Linked DNA regions of Homo sapiens: regions 2 and 3 are each reported to be linked to region 1. The links are microRNA targets in miRTarBase. Many come from high-throughput screens and were not tested one by one. Region 1 holds a microRNA gene; each other region holds the end of a gene's coding sequence.
What was found. The annotated mature microRNA hsa-miR-4797-5p reads GACAGAGUGCCACUUACUGAA and lies in region 1 at 1,844-1,864, shown strand. An mRNA with a match to its seed (bases 2 to 7 or 8) in the 3' UTR can be bound and repressed. Matches are read on the target gene's strand: a 7mer-m8 pairs with bases 2 to 8, a 7mer-A1 pairs with bases 2 to 7 and ends in A, and an 8mer does both.

Region 1 (3,184 bases):
AATAAGAGTCCTGAGTTCTTTTGCCACTAATTGAATGATATATCCCAAGTCATTTAATCTTTTCTATGCCACCATATTAGCTGTAGAATGTAGCTGTTGAAATGACAGAATGGGTTTAAAGCCTTTTTTAAGTAGATAAATCATTTTTAAAAGCATCATCTCATATTTTGTGTATAATCTCCTATGTATAAAACAAGGTGACTTGTCTGGCTCTTTTGTCCAGGTACCTCAAAAAGTTTGCAAACCACCGAACTAGAAAGTTTGTCTCTTCCAATTCTAAGAATGAAGTTTTTTTTTTTTGTTTTAGTTATCAACTATATAACATTTTAACATAAGAAGACATATACTTAATTATATTACATTTATTTCTTCAGTAACTTCCAGTCAGATATGGCCTTACATCTATCTGTTGATAGAATAATTGTTGGTGTGATTTGAAGACTACTTTCAAGTCAGTGTGTCCTGTCAGGTACATTATTGATAAATGGATGCTCTCTACGGTTTTAGAATGAAAGATTTTTGTAAAGACCACTTGATGCACCTGAACAATTTTGAAAAATGTAACATTTTAATAGACTTTTAAAAACATAAGGATACATAGCACAGTGTAATGAACTGCCTTTTAACTGTTACCCAGCTCCAGAAATTCACATTTTGCCATTTTTGTTTACATTGATGGACATTTTTTACACATTTGAATTTCTGAGGTTTAAGGTCCGAATGGATGATCAAATTGGATTCCTCTGGAAAAACAGCAAAAAGCATTTTTTAGTTATTTGTTTTCTAAATCAACATTGAGCCTAGTAATTTGGTGCAGTTACTGTTGCAAAAAAAGTATGTTTTTTCGCAACAGTATAGAGATATATATATACATATATGTATAGATAGGCAGATAGATAGACTGCAGACTTTTCTTTGTGTGATGGCTGTAACTTAAGAAAATTAAATCGTTAGTGAAATAACAGAATCTACATTTATATTTCTGTCTAGATTGGGGATGGGTTTGCTGTGTTCAGAGACATTTTTGACCTATTCTGCCTTGCCTGTTTTGAATGTGTCTATTCTTACGTACAATTGAACTTTGATAGAGTTAGCTTTCTTCTCTTTTTTTTTTTTTTTTTTTTTGAGGCAGAGTCTCACTCTGTCACCCAGGCTGGAGTGCAGTGGCGAGATCTCCGCTCACTGCAAGCTCCGCCTGCCAGGTTCACGCCATTCTCCTGCCTCAGCCTCCTGAGTAGCTGGGACCAAAGGTGCCCACCACCACGTCCGGCTAATTTTTTATTTTTTGTATTGTATTTTTAGTAAAGACGGGGTTTCACTGTGTAAGCCAGGATGGTCTCGATCTCCTGACCTCGTGATCCACCCACCTCGGCCTCCCAAAATGTTGGGATTACAGGCGTGAGCCACCGCGTCTGGCCTAGAGTTAGCTTCCTAATTACTAAGTTTATATTTGTGAATCTTCTAATTTCATTGGTTGTGAATTTACTTTGACATTTAAATTTACTTATATTTAATGTTCTATAGGATGTGGTACTATATCACATTTTGGTGTAAGACAAGTAATAGATTTTAGGAGTTTTGAAATAGATAACGTTTAATAGAGGTTCTGTGTGTTTCCATGCTATAATTGTTGATACTACGGAATAAATACATTCTCTTGTGTTTCCTGAATAACTTTTAATACTTAGTCTGAAAATGTTTAGTCTGATAAGATTTTCTTTGTATTTTGCAACTCTACCATTGTTTTGAAACAGTGTCATAAATGTACTTTAAGCTTGTAAACTGCCCTAAGCTAAACCAGTTCATTGTGTCCATAGTGTTTGCAGAAAAATCCGACTCAGAAGACAGAGTGCCACTTACTGAAAGGTTTTTTCTCTCAGTAAGTGGCACTCTGTCTTCTGAGTTGGTACCTGTGGACCACTGGATTAAAGGAGAACAGGGGTCTTGGCCACCTGAGCTGTTTGGAGTCATTGAGTGCTTAGATTTTTCACTTCCTTAATTTGGAAATCACTTGTTTAGGCCGCAGTGAGTTATCTAGTTATCTGTTTGGGGTGCCAAGTGTCTTTGGATTTTCAGTCTGCATTGATCATTTATTGATTGATTCTTTGAACTGGTAGTTTATATTGACTTTTCATGCATTTAAAAAAGTTTGAGTCTCTAGGGGTTTGGTGTCCCCCCCTGTAGTTGATACATAGATTAGGTTCCTGTACTTTTGGATTATTCAGAGGGACAAGCATGTACGTACTGTATTATATTTGTTCTAAAATACCAACTGTTAAATATTTCAATATCTGGTATATGTCATTTTTAATTGACAGTGTTTCTGTGTTCTGACACATGAAATAGTGCATTTTATAATTGATACTCGCAATGTAATATAGAAATCATTGGTCTAGTGCTGATAGATACTTGGTAGTATCTTTGAAGGATGGCTTAAAGATTTAAAAATTATTGAAAGCAGAAAAGTTTTTACTAATTTTGAATTTCAGCTGATGTATTGTTTCTTTAGAGCTAAATATTTAAAGTTGTATCTTAACAAAAGTCCATGAACTGCACATTTGTTTAAAATTTACTCCCAAAACATACCTGGTGATTATTTTTGTATAAAGGAAGATAAAGTCTGCTTAATTTCACTCTGTGATTTAGGTGAGAGCAATTTGAAAACTTGCTTTTGTATTCCAGTTTTTTGTGCTTAAGTTTGAAAATTTTTTGAGTAGACGGGATATGGTTTGATTATAATCAGAGCCCAGGTATTCAGGTCCATAGTGGTTTCAGTTCATTCATGATTCTAAGGTGTGTGGGATCTGAGATGACACTGCTAGTCCATAGAGACTTCATACCAGTCTAAACCCCTGCAGTTATTTCTTACGGGATCAGAGAACTCATCTGCTTTCCTTGTGCATGAGAAAAACTGGGGCCCAAGATTAGGCTGGCTTTAGAGACTTGAGTAAGTTGAGTCATGTGATTTGTATATTTTGTCTGCAATAAATAAGCTTATTCTAATGCAGTGTTTTATTTCTGCAGAGATTTCAGAATGAAAGTGGATTATGTAATAATACTGTCCATTTATGAGTTTAGTTACCAGTTCATTTGTTGCCACTCTATTAAAATCTAATAGTTTCACTAGCCCTTATAAAAGGACATTACCCTATCTTTATTTGTAGATACTAGTTTCAAAAGTATG
Region 2 (3,000 bases), not on the chromosome of region 1:
TGCTATTTATAGTAACATGTAATGGGTTATTTTATAGTAACTTAAGATGTTCTTAGTTTTAATTTCTGATATGATAAACATCCATATATAGCCCACATAAAAGATTCCTGGGGTTCTCAATAATTTTTAAGAGTGTAAAAGGGACCTGAGACAAAGTTTGAGAACTGGTTTAAGACTTAAAATTTAATAAACACCTGCCTTTTGCCGTGTAAAAAACCCCAAATCTTTTCCTAAAATCTCTCCCATTATCCCTTAAGTCCTTGTCTTGTTTATTACAATATCTGCAGCATCAGTCAGACAAACGAATACAAAAGACCAGTAAGTGGTGACTGTAATACACTTCTATAGCTAAATCTATAAGCCAAAATATAAGGCAGAGTAGGTAGGATGAGCATCCAACTTGGAAGTTAGTAAGAAATGGTGGCAAAACTTTAAGGTAACTGGCAGAAAAAACCATGTAAGACATTTAAAGGTATATGCAAAAATTGTTCTCTTTAACTAACTATGTCCTCTCATTTTTTTCCCAGAGATTCCTTCAGTCGAATGAGCCTTCGCAAAATGGATCTCTAAACTGAATGCACTTGTTTTATTCATCTGCAAAGAGCCATGTATTCAACATCGAGTGTGAAAAGATCTATTGGAAAACAACATGGAATGGAATTCTGGAAATTATTATTCATTGAAGAATGCAGTGGCCAAGAAAATATCAAATGTAGATTGTTAACGCTTGAGAATCATGGCTATGGTTTCTAATGTTCTGGTAACAAGCTGTTATCTTTTAAGACATTTTAATGACTCAAAGGTACACTATACATTTACCATTATTTATACCATAGCTAAGGTTAAAAATTTATTCACTTTAAGTTCGTATTTTTTAATTTATATTACCATTTATAGATTCATTTTGGAACCATTTTAAATGTAGTAATGCTTATTTTAAAGGTACTATTAAATATGTGAATGTTTACACTAATTTTACCGAGTGGGACTTCAAAATTTTTATTATTGACAATGGCAGAGAACAATTAAAGGGTTGACTCAAGAACTAGTTCCAAACCTAGCAGAATAAAAATCATAGATAGCCCCAAATTAATGAGTTTGGTAACTGTTTCAAAGTTATTTTCCATTTACATACCCAAAACAGGAATTTAGAATTGCAGAACTTTACTTAGTAAAACCTTTGTGTAAAATAATTTAAATACGGGGATAACTAATACCAGTGACAACACCTTAACTTGATTAAATCTTATTACACCAATGATAGTAGTAAGAACTTCATGATTCTTAGCAACTAAAATGAATGATTTCTCTGTTTCAAATTAAAACCAGCCATCAGTTTTTGACGATGTAAACCAGTAAATTAGAATCTACTTAAAGCTATCTTGTAGCACCATGAAGGTAACACAGCTGGAGTTTGAGAAATTACCTATTTTCTGACACTTGTAAAGTTTAGAAGCATATAAAAAGTAAAATTAGGTGCTTTAATTCATCTAAAATTATATGCAAGTCATACAGAAAAAAAATTTGAGAAGTAACATTTTAATTCTTGGCAAGTTTTTCCAAAACGATGCATAGTAATGATTTCCAGAACAGTTTAGAACAATGGTTTTTGGGTAGTAGTGCAGTTTACAGAATGGCATCATTTATAATCCTTTTCTTCTACTGACCAGTTACATGAATCACTTAAGAACTAACCAGATCTGGGTGCGGTGGCTCACATCTGTAATCCCAACACTTTGGGAGGCCGAGGCGGGTGGATCACGAAGTCAGGAGTTCAAGACCAGCCTGGCCAAGATGGTGAAAACCCGTCTCTACTAAAAATACAGAAATTAATTAGCCAGGCACAGTGGCAGGAGCCTGTAATCCCAGCTACTTGGGAGACTGAAGCAGGAGAATCGCTTGAACCCGGGCAGCAGAGGTTGGAGTGAGCAGAGATGGAGCCACTGCAACTCTAGCCTGGGCGACAGAGACTCCGTCTCAAAAAAAAAAAAAAAAAAAAAACTATCATCTGTACACACACGCACACACACATACATACATACACACACATATATATAAAAGAACTGATCAGATTGGCTGGGTGCAGTGGCTCAGGCCTATAATCCCAGCACTCTGGGAGGCAGGGGCAGGCGGATCATGAGGCCAGGAGTTCAAGAACAGCCTGGTCAATATGGTGAAACCCCATCTCTACCAAAAACACAAAAATCAGCCAGGTGTAGTAGCCCGTGCCTGTAATCCGAACTACTTGGGTGGCTGAGGCATGAGAATCACTGGAACCTGGAAAGTGGAGGTTGCAGCGAGCCAAAATGGCGCCACTGCACTTCAGCCTGGGCGACAGAGCAAGACTCTTAAGTCAAAAACAAAAACCAGCACTTTGGGAGGCCGAGGCAGACAGATCACGAGGTCAGGAGATTGAGACCATCCTGGCTAACAGTCAAACCCCGTCTCTACTAAAAATACAAAAAATTAGCCAGGCGAGGGGGCAGGAGCCTGTAGTCCCAGCTACTCGGGAGGCTGAGGCAGGAGAATGGCGTGAACCCGGGAGGCGGAGCTTGCAGTGAGCTGAGATCACGCCACTGCACTCCAGCCTGGGTGACAGAGCTAGACTCCGTTTCAAAAAAAAAAAACAAAAACTGGTCAGATTTAACGTATTGCCTTCATTCTATAGTCAATGTAGTAAATATTCAAAATATACTAAAAAATATCTACTTCTGAGAGCCTAAGTGATGGTTGATATCCCACACTCCATGTACTTTAATGGGCAGTATCATCTCAAATTCCTCTTATCTATATCAATTCAAAGACTGAATCACAAAAACATTTTTCAGATGAGTCTACATTGTTAGACCAAATCTGAGTCAGAAGGGCATAACCTCAAAACTCTATTTGAGGAGCCAAATGAACAATAAGGAAAGGTAAGGAGTCAAGAATGGAAATCCCTCCCCTCCAAAAAAAGTGACATTTTCCCTTCTTCTTTGGGGGTCAGTGGTGGGTATAAAC
Region 3 (3,000 bases), not on the chromosome of region 1:
GGAACATGCTATATTTGTTAATTGTGAATTTCTGTACCAAGTTTGATAAGCATCTAAGTTCTTTATTCTTTGCAATAGTATCACCAAAAGATGGTAACAGAGCTAAAATAATGGGGCACAACTTGTAAAAATAGAGGAGAGATGATATTTTTGGGTAAAGTCATAATCATGTTTTACATTTATGTATTATAATCTTTACTTGTTGAATCCAGGGCCCCACACCAGTTTGTACACCAACATTTTTGGAGAGGCGAAAATCTCAAGTGGCTGAACTGAATGATGATGATAAAGATGATGAAATAGTTTTCAAACAGCCCATATCCTGTGTAAAAGAAGAAATACAAGAGACTCAAACACCTACACATTCACGGAAAAAAAGACGAAGAAGCAGCAATCAGTGATTTTCAATGTATTATATTTCTTTTGAAAAATATAATATTTTTATGAGAGTGGACTTTGTATTTCACTAGGTACAATGGAATACAACCTTTGACAAGATTTTCAGAGGAAAAATACACTGTTTGGTCAAGTTAAGGAAAGCAGTGTGTAATTTTGGATTGCCTGCCCTTGGCTGAAATACAGGGGTGCATACCATCTTGCAGTGGCTTGGCTGACATTGCCTCTTTGTCCTGGCCTCTAGTTTTCTTTTGATATTTCATAGCTCTCCTTAGTTTACTCTGCCTGGATAGAAAGTTGACCACTAACTGCAGGTTTAAGTACTAAACTGCAGCCTTTTCTGTCGCCAGCAATTAAAGACCACCAATCTTGTTTGTCCATCTACATGGTTTGTCGGGGACATTTAACTCATGGAGGTGCTTTAGATTTCAACATCAGATGGTTGAAGCTGGAAGTTTAATTATATGTAGAGTGAGAAGGCAGTTCCAGTTTTAGCACAGATTTGTTTATGTGTTCAGATTTTAATAGAGATTCAAAAATGACTCATTTTTACCAATAATGTTAAATTAGTTTTGGTTGTGCTAGCATGAATTAATAACCACCATTTTATACCAGTATCATCAGTGAAGAATTGTATTTCAAGATTCAAACAATAACCAGCAATTAAACTTTTTTCTACAATGTATTTGTTTGCGAGTAGGACTTGGGAGTCATTGGGAAAAAAAAATAATAAATTTTCCCCTTCATTAACGAATTCAGACTCATTAAAAACATTGCCATCAGATGTAGTAGCTTGTGCCTGTAATCCCAGCACTTTGGGAGGCTGAGGCAGGAGGATCACTTAAGGCTAGGAGTTGGAGACCAGCCTGGGCAACATGATGAGAGCCTCTTTCTACAAAAAAATTTTAAAAATGAAGCCAGGCACGGTAGCTTGCTTCTGTAATCCCAGTATTTTGGGAGGCCGAGGCGGGTGGATCATGAGGTCAAGATATCAAGACCATCCTGGCCAACATGGTGAAACCCCATCTCTACTAAAAATACAAAAATTAAATGGGCGTGGTGGCAGGTACCTGTAGTCCCAGCTGCTTGGGAGGCTGAGGCAGGAGAATCGCGTGAACCCGGGAGGCGGAGGTTGCAGTGGGCCAAGATCACGCCACTGCACTCCAGCCTGGTGACAGAGGAGACTCTGTCTCAAAAAAAAAAAAAAAAATGAGGTGGGCATGGTGACACATGCCTATAGTCCCACCTACTTAGGATACTGAGGCAAAAGGATCACTGAACCTAGGAGTTTGAGGCTACAGTGACCTATGGTTGCACCATTGCACTCCAGCCAGAGCGACAAAGCAAGACCCTGTCTCTTAAAAAAAAAAAAGCTGGGTGTGGTGTCTCACGCCTGTAATCCCGGCCTGACCAACATGGAGAAACCCCGTCTCTACTAAAAATACAAAATTAGCCGGCCGTGGTGGCGCATGCCTATAATCCCAGCTACTCAGGAGGTGGAGGCAGGAGAATTAGTTGAACCCAGGAGGTGGAAGTTGCAGTGAGCCAAGATCGCACCATTGCACTCCAGGCTGGGCAACAAGAGCGAAACTCCGTCTCAAAAAACAAACCAAAAAAAATTCATTATCACTCTCTTAAAAAAGATTTTTTTTTAATTCATTGCCACTAAGCATTCTTTCATCTAGCATTTCTTAAGTCTTTAATACGATACAGGGCTAGGTGTTCTGATGCAAAATAGAGTTGGTTTTAAGTACATGCAAAAAGCAGATTAGATCTCTAGAATGGTTCCTGGCACATAGAAGATTTAGTATGTATTTGTTAAATAATGCCCTATTTGAACCATCTCTGAGCTTCGTGGATCTGGACATCTGGTTTCCCCTGGGAAAGCGTCAGACAAGGTTCTCCATGTGAAGACATAAGTCTGTTGTGTTTGATCTTAAGGGGCATGTGCATTCAAACACATACATGTACATGGCAAGATGAACTGAGTATTTCTCCCTTCCTGAACAGCCACCTGCCACCCCCCTTATTTGTTTGTTTAGAGACGGAGTCTCACTCAGTGTTACCCAGGCTAGACTGCAGTTGCACAATCTCTGCTCACTGCAAGCTCTACCTCCCTGGTTCAAGTGATTCTCCTGCCTCGGTCTCCCGAGTACTTGGGATTACAGGCATGCACCACCACGCCCAACTGATTTTTGTATTATTAGAGACAGGATTTCACCATGTTGGCCAGGCTGGTCTCGAACTCCTGACCTCAAGTGATCCACCCGCCTCGGCCTCCCAAAGTGCTGGGATTACAGGCATGAGCCACCACCCCCAGCCAGCTATAGACATTTTTTGTAAAAAAAACTTTTTTTTAATGGAAAAGTATATATCAAAATTAATTCAGTTATCTAATTAGGTTTTTCCCTGTTTCTTTTTTGTTTTTTTCATTGAAACGGGTCTTGCTATGTTGCCCACAGTGTTCTTGAATTCCTGGGGTCAAACGATCCTCTTGCCTCAGCCTCCTAAAGTGCTGGGATTACTAGCATGAGCCACCAGGCCAGCCATTTTTCGCTTTCTTAATTTTTAAAAATTAATGAGGTTTTTGTTGCTATTATATAT

Region 2: miRTarBase lists DOCK7 as a target of hsa-miR-4797-5p. The part of its 3' UTR that is shown has no 7-base or 8-base seed match.
Region 3: miRTarBase lists NIFK as a target of hsa-miR-4797-5p. The part of its 3' UTR that is shown has no 7-base or 8-base seed match.

The regions. Positions count from the first base shown.
Region 1 is chr3:197,292,599-197,295,782 of GRCh38, reverse strand. MIR4797 (microRNA 4797) reads left to right here and starts at 1,835; the gene lies at 1,835-1,905. The region is part of intron 3 of DLG1 (discs large MAGUK scaffold protein 1); the gene reads left to right.
Region 2 is chr1:62,452,984-62,455,983 of GRCh38, reverse strand. It overlaps DOCK7 (dedicator of cytokinesis 7), which reads left to right. Exons shown (of 50, transcript NM_001367561.1): 50 at 528-1,258. The coding sequence ends at 570. Among named protein-coding and RNA genes, the nearest start is that of USP1, 17 kb to the right of the region's middle.
Region 3 is chr2:121,725,125-121,728,124 of GRCh38, reverse strand. It overlaps NIFK (nucleolar protein interacting with the FHA domain of MKI67), which reads left to right. Exons shown (of 7, transcript NM_032390.5): 7 at 213-1,180. The coding sequence ends at 401. NIFK-AS1 (NIFK antisense RNA 1) reads right to left here. Exons shown (of 4, transcript NR_037857.1): 4 at 1-322. Among named protein-coding and RNA genes, the nearest start is that of NIFK, 10 kb to the left of the region's middle.